Linked DNA regions of Homo sapiens: region 1 is linked to region 2. The links come from fine-mapping of genetic effects on gene expression. A gene starts in region 2. The other region holds a variant in brackets. All regions are shown on one strand. Distances are from middle to middle. Region 1 overlaps WDR59 (WD repeat domain 59). Region 2 holds the start of FA2H (fatty acid 2-hydroxylase).

Evidence for each region. PIP is the estimated chance that this variant, and not a neighbour inherited with it, causes the effect. A credible set is the group of variants that fine-mapping cannot tell apart.
Region 1: its variant is the best candidate, but not a certain one, in a credible set for the expression of FA2H in whole blood (TOPMed, PIP 0.61).

Annotation. Positions count from the first base shown.
Region 1 is chr16:74,891,276-74,895,669 of GRCh38, forward strand. It overlaps WDR59 (WD repeat domain 59), which reads right to left. Exons shown (of 26, transcript NM_030581.4): 19 at 2,404-2,537; 20 at 1,209-1,290. Among named protein-coding and RNA genes, the nearest start is that of WDR59, 92 kb to the right of the region's middle. The variant A/G (reference allele first, on the strand shown) is at 1,774.
Region 2 is chr16:74,772,947-74,777,340 of GRCh38, forward strand. It overlaps FA2H (fatty acid 2-hydroxylase), which reads right to left and starts at 1,874. Exons shown (of 7, transcript NM_024306.5): 1 at 1,540-1,874. The coding sequence starts at 1,809. RefSeq lists silencers at 1,511-1,560, 1,601-1,970, 1,981-2,110, 2,121-2,180.

The DNA.
Region 1 (4,394 bases), 120 kb after region 2:
AGAATAAGCAAACAAAGATACTGAGAAACAGGTCGAGAAGCATTAGGCATGCAAAATCAATTAAATCACGTGGCACCAACATACTTGAAAAATATACAGAAGGTATTGTCGAAAAGGAGAAACTTGAAGTTCACATTCATCTCTATAATCAATAACCTAGTGAATCAGCACTAGAGGAAGTTAATGACTTTCTGGGATGAGATAAGATGTTTACTACCCTGGCTGACAATTTAGACGTGTTATTTCCTCACTGATAATACACATTTCCTGAATGCCTTCAACAGAAACAGTGACTCTTGCATTTACTTCTGCAACTCTTTGCAAAACAGTAAACATATCTTCAACATGAGCATAAAGAACAAAAAGACTGGGTGTGGTGGCTCACGCCTGTAATCCCAACACTTTGGGAGGCCAAGGCAGAAGGATCACTTGAGGCCAGGAGTTCAAGACTAGCCTGGCCAACATGGTGAAACCCCATCTCTACTAAAAAGTACAAAAATTAGCCGGGTTTGGTGGCACGCATCTATAATCCCCGCTACTCGGGAGGCTGAGGCAGGAGAATCGCTTGAACCCGGGAGGCGGAGGTTGTGGTGAGCTGAGATCGTGCCACTGCACTCTAGCCTGGGCGACAGAGTGAAACTCCATCAAAAAAAACAAAAACAAAAACAAACCACTGAATGGTGTATTTTAAATGGGCAAATTGCATGGTAGATGGGCTATATCTCAGTTAAGCCGTTTAAAAAAATACAGAGATAATTTGTTATAATACACTGATATGTTGCTGCAAAGATGAAGAAAATTTAAATATTTGTCATGTTAAATCATATTTTAAAACTGAACATCTCTATCTAAAGGAGCACTTTGGTAAATATTTCATAAAATGAAGCATTTTAGAAAGAAGGAACAAATGACAAAGAAATAGACATGCAAGTTTAGCTACACAGCAATCACTGATACTGGAACAGAAAAGAGATGTATAATTAAAAAAATTCATCGATGCTTTAGGACCTTCCCAACTGAGCACCAAAAAGAAAAAATTTCCAGCATTTGGAAAGCCACTCTAACCCTACAGACTGGCAAAGAAAATGGAAAATGAATTCCAAATTAAGACACACACTTTGAAAATGTCATTAAATGCCAATGACAAAGTAAAAACAATTTGCTCCTGAAGAAAAATCCAAATCTCCACCAAAAGGGATGGACAATACCTGGACAAGATCCTTTCTTCCAACGAGCAAGGCAGAGGCGGCATTCTTCTGACATGTTTCCTGAATATCATTCACATTCAATCTGAAATTTTTTAAAAAGAATTAAACATTTCTTTCTAGTGTAACTTCCCAAATCAACGACTCCCAGTTTAACAGACAGATGAGAACCTGACTCTTTGGTTATCACTCAAAATGTTTTATTCCGCGTTGGCCTTGGGCCCCCTTTCTATCTGACTCAGAGGAAAAGCTTAACTAGAGCTGAAGCTAATACATCTGTGGGTTCCAGCCTGGGGAACTTGAAATTGCACACCTCTTTAAAGTCAGGAGGGCAGGCCATACTCAAATACCAATTTACCAACCAGCTTTTCTATGGAGTTCCCAAGCCGTGAGGGTTGAATAAAAATGAATTGAAATACATGCGACACTGACTATGGTTCCTAACAGAAAGAGTAGTGTGCTGTGTGTAGACTACAAAGGAAACACTTTCTGTTATGAGTTCGAGTTTAGGAAGAGGCAGGGGAACTACAGGTGGCCTCTGCATGCCAATTACTCACCTCTCACTTCC[A/G]TCCAAACAAAAGTAGCCCTGCTTTGCATAACAGCTCTTCTGCTTTGTAAAGTAGCATGCCTTGTACAATACTCCACCCCCTTTGAATGTGGGTGACACCAGTGAATATTGATGGGATATCACTTCTGTGATTATGTTATTAAGCAATTGACTTTGAAGTCACCTACAGAGAGACTATCCTGGGTGGGGCTGACCTCATCAGGTGAGGCCTTAGAGGGAAGGTAAAGCATGTGTGAGCCATTCCTGCTGGTCTCAAGACGAAATTTACAGATGAGTTCTACAGCTGCAAGGGTCTGAATTCTGCTGACAACCTGAACAAGCTTGGAAGAGGAGCTTTGCATCGGATGAGACCACTGCCTGGCCAACACCATTTCAGCCTGCTGAGACCCTAAGCAAGGACACAGAAAAGCTGTGTCCAGACTCGCGACCCACAAAAACTGGAAGATAAGAAATGAATGTTGTTGGAAGCTGCTAAGTTTGTGGGAATTTGTCCACAGCAACAGAAAGCTAATACATTGGGCTTTTCCTAAAACTGCTTTTGAAGAAAGGATTCCCACACTCAAAAAAAAAAAAAGTTTTGCTAATCCTGGCTAAATGATGAGTGCAGCAGACTTGAAATTTTGTACTTACATGTACAGCTCTCCCAGCGATTTGTGAACAGGCAGGAGGCAAGCAATATCCTGGATGATGACTTTCCCAGCAGCCTTGATCTGTCGATTGCCAGAGTCTGATCCCTCACGCTTACTTTTCCATCGTCTTGATTTCTAGGGGTAGATGACAGGATGTAACTAATGGGGACTTTGACAAGTGGAAACCAACAATTGCAGAGCTCATCATATTGGGGTCATTGGCAATTTGCACTTTTTAAAAATTACATCATGCCCACAATTATGGGAATCAGCATCTGTAGGAAATAAAAGGATGAGCTCTTGTTCCAAAAATCCTAACAGGAAAATAAGCACCTACTGCCAGGCTAGATACATTCTGCAGGTGCTCAAAAACACATATCAGGAAGCCAGGATTAATACATTAATTAATGAATTTGAAAACAGCAAGTAAATAAGTTAGTAAAGGCCACAAAAATGTGGGAGAACAATTTTTAGATTGAATTCAGTCCTAGGTTCAAAATTCCTGCCTGAAACTCATCAAAATTTTTTTCCTTAGGCAGTTTGAACAGGGTTTGTTGAAAATTTATTGCAGACATAGCAGTGTGGGCTCTGCAAACCTTAATCTATATGGTAGGAAAACAGAGAAACTTTGCACCTTGAGGAGAATTACCCCGTTTTTCTGGCAGACTTGAATTATTTCTAAAAGTGATCGTTCTCAATGTCAAAAATACCTGATTCAAGGGGCTTGGGTAACAGACATGGAAGATTGTGGGCAAGTATTCGATTTCCCCAGGCTTACCTATGGGTGGCTACATGTGTGAGGAGCCTGTATGTGTGAAATGAGAGATGTCCTGAAAAACTTGAATTATCAGAGCACAGCCCCATCTGGAATCTTTAAAATGACAAACCAAGGAGCAGGATTCCATTTTATTGCCAGAAGTTAAAAAGGGGGTCACCAAAGTGATTCAACTAAGGAAGGAGTGACATATTTATTAACAAAAAAAGGCAAAAGGAGCTAGTAAAAAGGCCTCCAATTTGGAATTAGAAAATCAAGATTTCCAGGTCTTACTACTACATGTACTGGCTCAGCAGGACCCTCGGCAAGTTTTTATTTGTTATGAATTTAGTCTAAGGCATGTGACTTTGTTTGCTCACTGACAACTTATGGCCAATCATGACCTCTGTTGTTCCAATCTCACAAGATTAATGAGCGTACAATGAAGAGGCAGGGGTGCAAATTAAATGGAAAAGTGTACTCTAGAAACATGTAACTATTATGAATGTATATAAACTCTCAGGAATTTAAATTGGACCATTATTTAGATTACTCACAAATAAATTCATTTTCTGTAAGTGATTTTTATACAATCATTCTTCCATAAAGGGTTTCTGACCACTGATATCCCATTTAATACCTAAAGTTGTCCAATGCATGTAACTTCCTATAGGGTTATCATGTGTCTTGGAACCTACTAAATTCAGGACATGTGGAGTTAGTTCAGGGCAGGTAAATGAAGAAGTTTAGCTGAAGTATCTGTGAACTGTTTATCATCATTTGTAAATGCATGTTACACTATCAATTTGGAACTTTAACCCGTTTGATCTTTTTATTTTTTTTTCTTTTGAGACAGAGTCTTGCTCTGTTGCTGAGGCTGGAGTGCAGTGGTGTGATCTTGGCTCACTGAAATCTCCGCCTCCGGGGTTCAAGTGATTCTCCTGCCTCAGCCTCCCGAGTAGCTGGGATTACAGGCATGCACCATCATACTCAGCTAATTTTTGTATTTTTAGTAGAGACAGGGTTTCACCATATTGGCCAGGCTGGTCTTGAACTCCTGACCTCAAGTGATTCACCCACCTTGGCCTCCCAAAATGCTAAGATTACAGGCATGAGCCACCACGCCCGGCCCCATTTGATCTTAAGAAGCAGTTCAGTGACTATTTACCATTTATCCATACCCAAGTCATTATTCTGCAATACAAGGGGAAGCTTTATCAATTATTATGGGGTAGCCC
Region 2 (4,394 bases):
TCATGGCTCACTGCAGCCTCCACCTCTCAGGTGATCCTCCCACCTTAGCCTCCCAAGTAGCTAGAATTATAGCCACATGCCACCACACCCGGCTAATTTTGGTATTTTTTGTAGACACAAGGTCTCCCTATGTTGCCCAGGCTGGTCTTGAACTCCTGGGCTCGAGCGATCCTCTTACCTCGGCCTCCCAAAGTGCTAGGATTACAGATGTCAGCCACTTTGCCTGGCCTCATGTTATCATCTTACATTATCACAAGAAGAGTGAGTACAGTACTATAAGATGTTTTGAGAGAAAGGGACCACATACAAATAGCTCTTATTACAGTATATTGTTGTAACTATTCTATTATTGTTGTTGTTAATCTCTTCCTATTGTTCTTAATTTATAAATTTAACTTTATCATAGATATGCATATATGGGAAAAAACATAGCATATATAGGATTCGGTACTATCTGTGGTTTTAAGGATCCACTGAGGGTCTTGAAATGTATCCCCTTGGACAAGGGGGAACTACTGTATATCTAAGCATGATGGCCCCATACCAGTCCCAGAGCCAGGCCTGGGGAACATCAAGAGAGTCGCTTTGCCTCTGGCCTGAGCCTACCTGGAATCCTGTGGACTAGGTCTGTCTCCTCCACCCGAAGACTTTTGGGATGGAGCCAGCATTGATTTTGGAGTCAGATACATGTGGCTTTCCCACTATTTAGCTATTTGACCTTAGGCGCATTAATCAGAGCCTCCCTGAGCCTCAGATTCCATATCCTGAAATGGGAATAACAAAACCTGCCCCAGGTTGAGTTAAGGACTTAAATACCATCGGGAGCTGGTACTGCACAGAAGCGTGCAGCTCAGCACACAGTCTGGTCCAAAGTGCTGGTCCCTTTTCCTTGGCAAAACTGGCTCATGCCTTTCATTTCACTCTTTTGGAGTCCCAAGCCAGCGTGTAGGACAAGAATATAAGGGAAGGTCTGAGAGGTTGGAGGACACAGTCCACCCCAGACATGGCCCAGGCAAGGCCAGGGCGGCACCAGGAAACCCAAGCTAGTGAGAAGAGTTACTGATCTGTGCCTCTTTGAAGCAGAAGTGAGGTGGGATGGGGAGGTGGGAACAGGTTGAGCCCATTATCCAAACAGAAACGGAGAGTGGTTGCAAAGAGGGAGAGGCCGATAAGTGAAGAGGAAGGAAAGCCGAGGCGTATGGGGGGCTGGGGACAGAAACGGGAATCCAGGTTGTCGGAGGGCAGGGGCTGCAGAAGGAACACGCTGGAAGGAGGGGTGCTGGGGAAATGGGAGAGCTGGCACGGAGGCGGGCCAGGCGGTAAGGGTGGAAAGGAAGAGCAAGTTCCTGGAGAGAGGAAGGAGGGGTTGGAGGGGACGACAGTGACCTGTTGCCTGGAGAGAAGAGAGGGAAAGCGAGGGAAGGGAGGGCAGAAGCTGTCACCTTGGGTCCTGCTAGAGGGCAAGTGAACGGGGCTCGCCCGGGAGTGGAAGGCTGACGGAGGCCTGGGTTGGGGTGGGGGGCCCCGGCCCGGCTGTACCTGCTGCTCCCCGCGGAGCTCTCCCACGTAGTACTGCTCCAGCCAGCGGCGCGCGTTGGCCGAGTGCCTGTGCGGCGGCCCGTCCAGGTCGGCGCTGATGTCCTGGCCCGCCCTGGCCCGCAGCAGCTGCTCGCCCCCCGGGTGGTGCCGCACGAAGCTGGAGAGGTCGTAGAGGCGGGCCCCGCGGCGGACCCAGCACGCGCCGGCCGCCAGGCGCCGCTGGACCTCGGAGGGCGAGAAGGAGGCGGCGGGGGGCGGAGCGGGGGCCATGGCCGGAGACCGCAGCTCCCAGCGCGCAGCCCGGCGTCTGCTCTGCTGCCACCCTGAGCGCCTCTAACATCCCGGGAGCCCCGCGGCCGTTCCGGGCGGGCCGCCACCGCACCTGCTCATTTGCATACCGCGCTCCCATTGGCCGGCCGGGAGCCCCGGCAGAGCCGCGAGGGGCGGGCCCGGCGCCGGGAGCTGCGCGCCAGGTGGCCGCGGACAGGGAGTGCCGCGCCCGCCAGGTGTGTCCCGCGCGGGAGGAGGGTGGGCGGACACAGGCGGAGCGAGTCTCCCCGTCGCGGGTGGTTGTCTGGGCGGACATCCTCGGTGGCCTGATCGCTGCTGGAATAACTTCAACTGCTTCCACGGAGGAGCTGGCCGCATGGGACCCTCTGGCTCCAGGAGGTGCCCGAGAGAGCGAGAGGCGAATGAGGTGCTCGCCTCGGGTGCAAATATTTGTTTGTTTTTAAAATTTCAGTAGCTTTTGGGGTACCAGTGGTTTTTGGTTACATGGAGGAATTGTATAGTGGTAAGTCCTGAGATTTTAGTCCACCTGTCCCCCGAGTAGTGTACATTATACCCAATGTGTAGGGTTTTGTGTGTGTGTGTGTGTTACACCCCCTCCCATTCTCCCTATTGTCCATTATATCACTCTGTATGCCTTTGCGTCCTCATAGCTTAGTTCCTACTTATGAGTGAGAACATACAGTGTTTGGTTTTCCATTCCTGAATCACTTTCACTTAGAATAATGGCCTCCAGCTCCATGCAAGTTGCTGCAAAAGACTTCATTTCGTTCCTTTTTATGGCTGAGTAGTATTCTATCGTGTATATCAACTACATTTTCTTTATCCACTCATTGGTTGATGGTTATTTAAGTTGGTTCCATATCTTTTCGATTGTGAATTGGGCTGCAAAAAACAAACATTCGTGTGCAAGTGTCTTTTTCATATAATGACTCTTTTCCTTTGGGTAGATACCCAGTGGTGGGATTGCTGGACCGAATGGTGAATCTACTTTTTCTCTCCTCCCCTCCCCTCCCCTCCCCTTCCCTTCCTTTCCCTTCCCTTCCCGTGACAAGGTCTCACTCTGTCACCCAGGCTGGAGAGTAGTGGTGCGATCTTGGTTCACTGCAGCCTCGACCTCCCGGGCTCAAGCAATCCTCTTACCTCAGCCTCCCAAGTAGCTGGCACTACAGGCATGCACCACTACGCCTGGCTAATTTTTGTATTTTTTGTAGAGACGAGGTTTCACCATGCTGCCCAGGATGGTCTCAAACTCCTGGGCTCAAGCGATTTGCCTGCCATGGCCTCCCATAGTGCACTTTTTTTTTTTTTTTTTGAGACAGAGTCTCACTCTGTTGCCCAGGCTGAAGTGCAGTGGCACAATCTCAGCTCACTGCTACCTCCGCCTCCCGGGTTCAAGCGATTCTCCTGCCTCAGCCTCCAGAGTAGCTATGACTATAGGCGCGTGCCACCACGCCCGGCTAATTTTTTTGTATTTTTAGTAGAGACGGGGTTTCACCATGTTGGCCAGGTTGGTCTCGAACTCCTGGCCTCTAGTGATCCTCCCGCCGCAGCCTCCCAAAATGCTGGGATTACAGGCGTGAGCCACCGCGCCCAGCCCCAAAGTGTACTTTTAGTTTGTTAAAGAATCTCTGTACTGTTTTCCAAACAAGTTGTACTAATTTACATTCCCACCAGCAGTGCATAGCATAAGCATCCCCCTTTCACTACATACACGCAGACATCTACTGTTTCTTGACTTTTTAATAATGTTCGAGGGCAAAATTTAATGGGGCACCCCAAAACTCAGTCATCACTATATCTAATACCTGAACGTAATATTTAAAAAATTATATTGTTGGCTGGGTGCGGTAACTCACACCTGTAATCCCAGCACTTTGGGAGGCCGAGGTGGGCGAATCACGAGGTCAAGAGATCGAGACCATCTTGGCCAACATAGTGAAACCCCATCTCTACTAAAAATACAAAAATTAGCTGGCTGTGGAGGCACGCATCTGTAGTCCTAGCTACTTGGGAGGCTGAGGCAGGGGAATCGCTTGAATCTGGGAGTTGGAGGTTGCAGTGAGCCGAGAACGCCCCACCACACTCCAGCCTGGCGAGAAAGAGAGACTCTGTCTCAAAAAAAAAATTATTTTGTTGCACAATGTGAATGTTCTTAATGCCACTGAACTGTACACTGAAAATGGTTGGAATGGTAAATTTATATTATGTATATTTTACCGCAATACAAAATATTTAAGAATGTTTTAAAAAATCACATTGTCAAAAGACAGGGGTGAGGGGTGGGGTTGGGGGCGTGGCATTGGCCACCTGTTTTTGTAAATAAAGTTTTATTGGAACCAGGGCCAGGGATTCCTGAGACAGGGATGTGAAAGTGCAGGGTTAGCTCCTGTTTTTATTTAAAATTTTGATATTTTGTCCATCATGGATTTTTTTGCATTAATCTTGAAGTTTTACAATACTGCATTAAAATATTATTTATCTTGGTTACTTTTTTTTGTTTGTTTTTTGGCATGCCTGTAGATTTTGCTCTCAGGGTTAGTGCCTCACTCCCTCACTCTAATCCT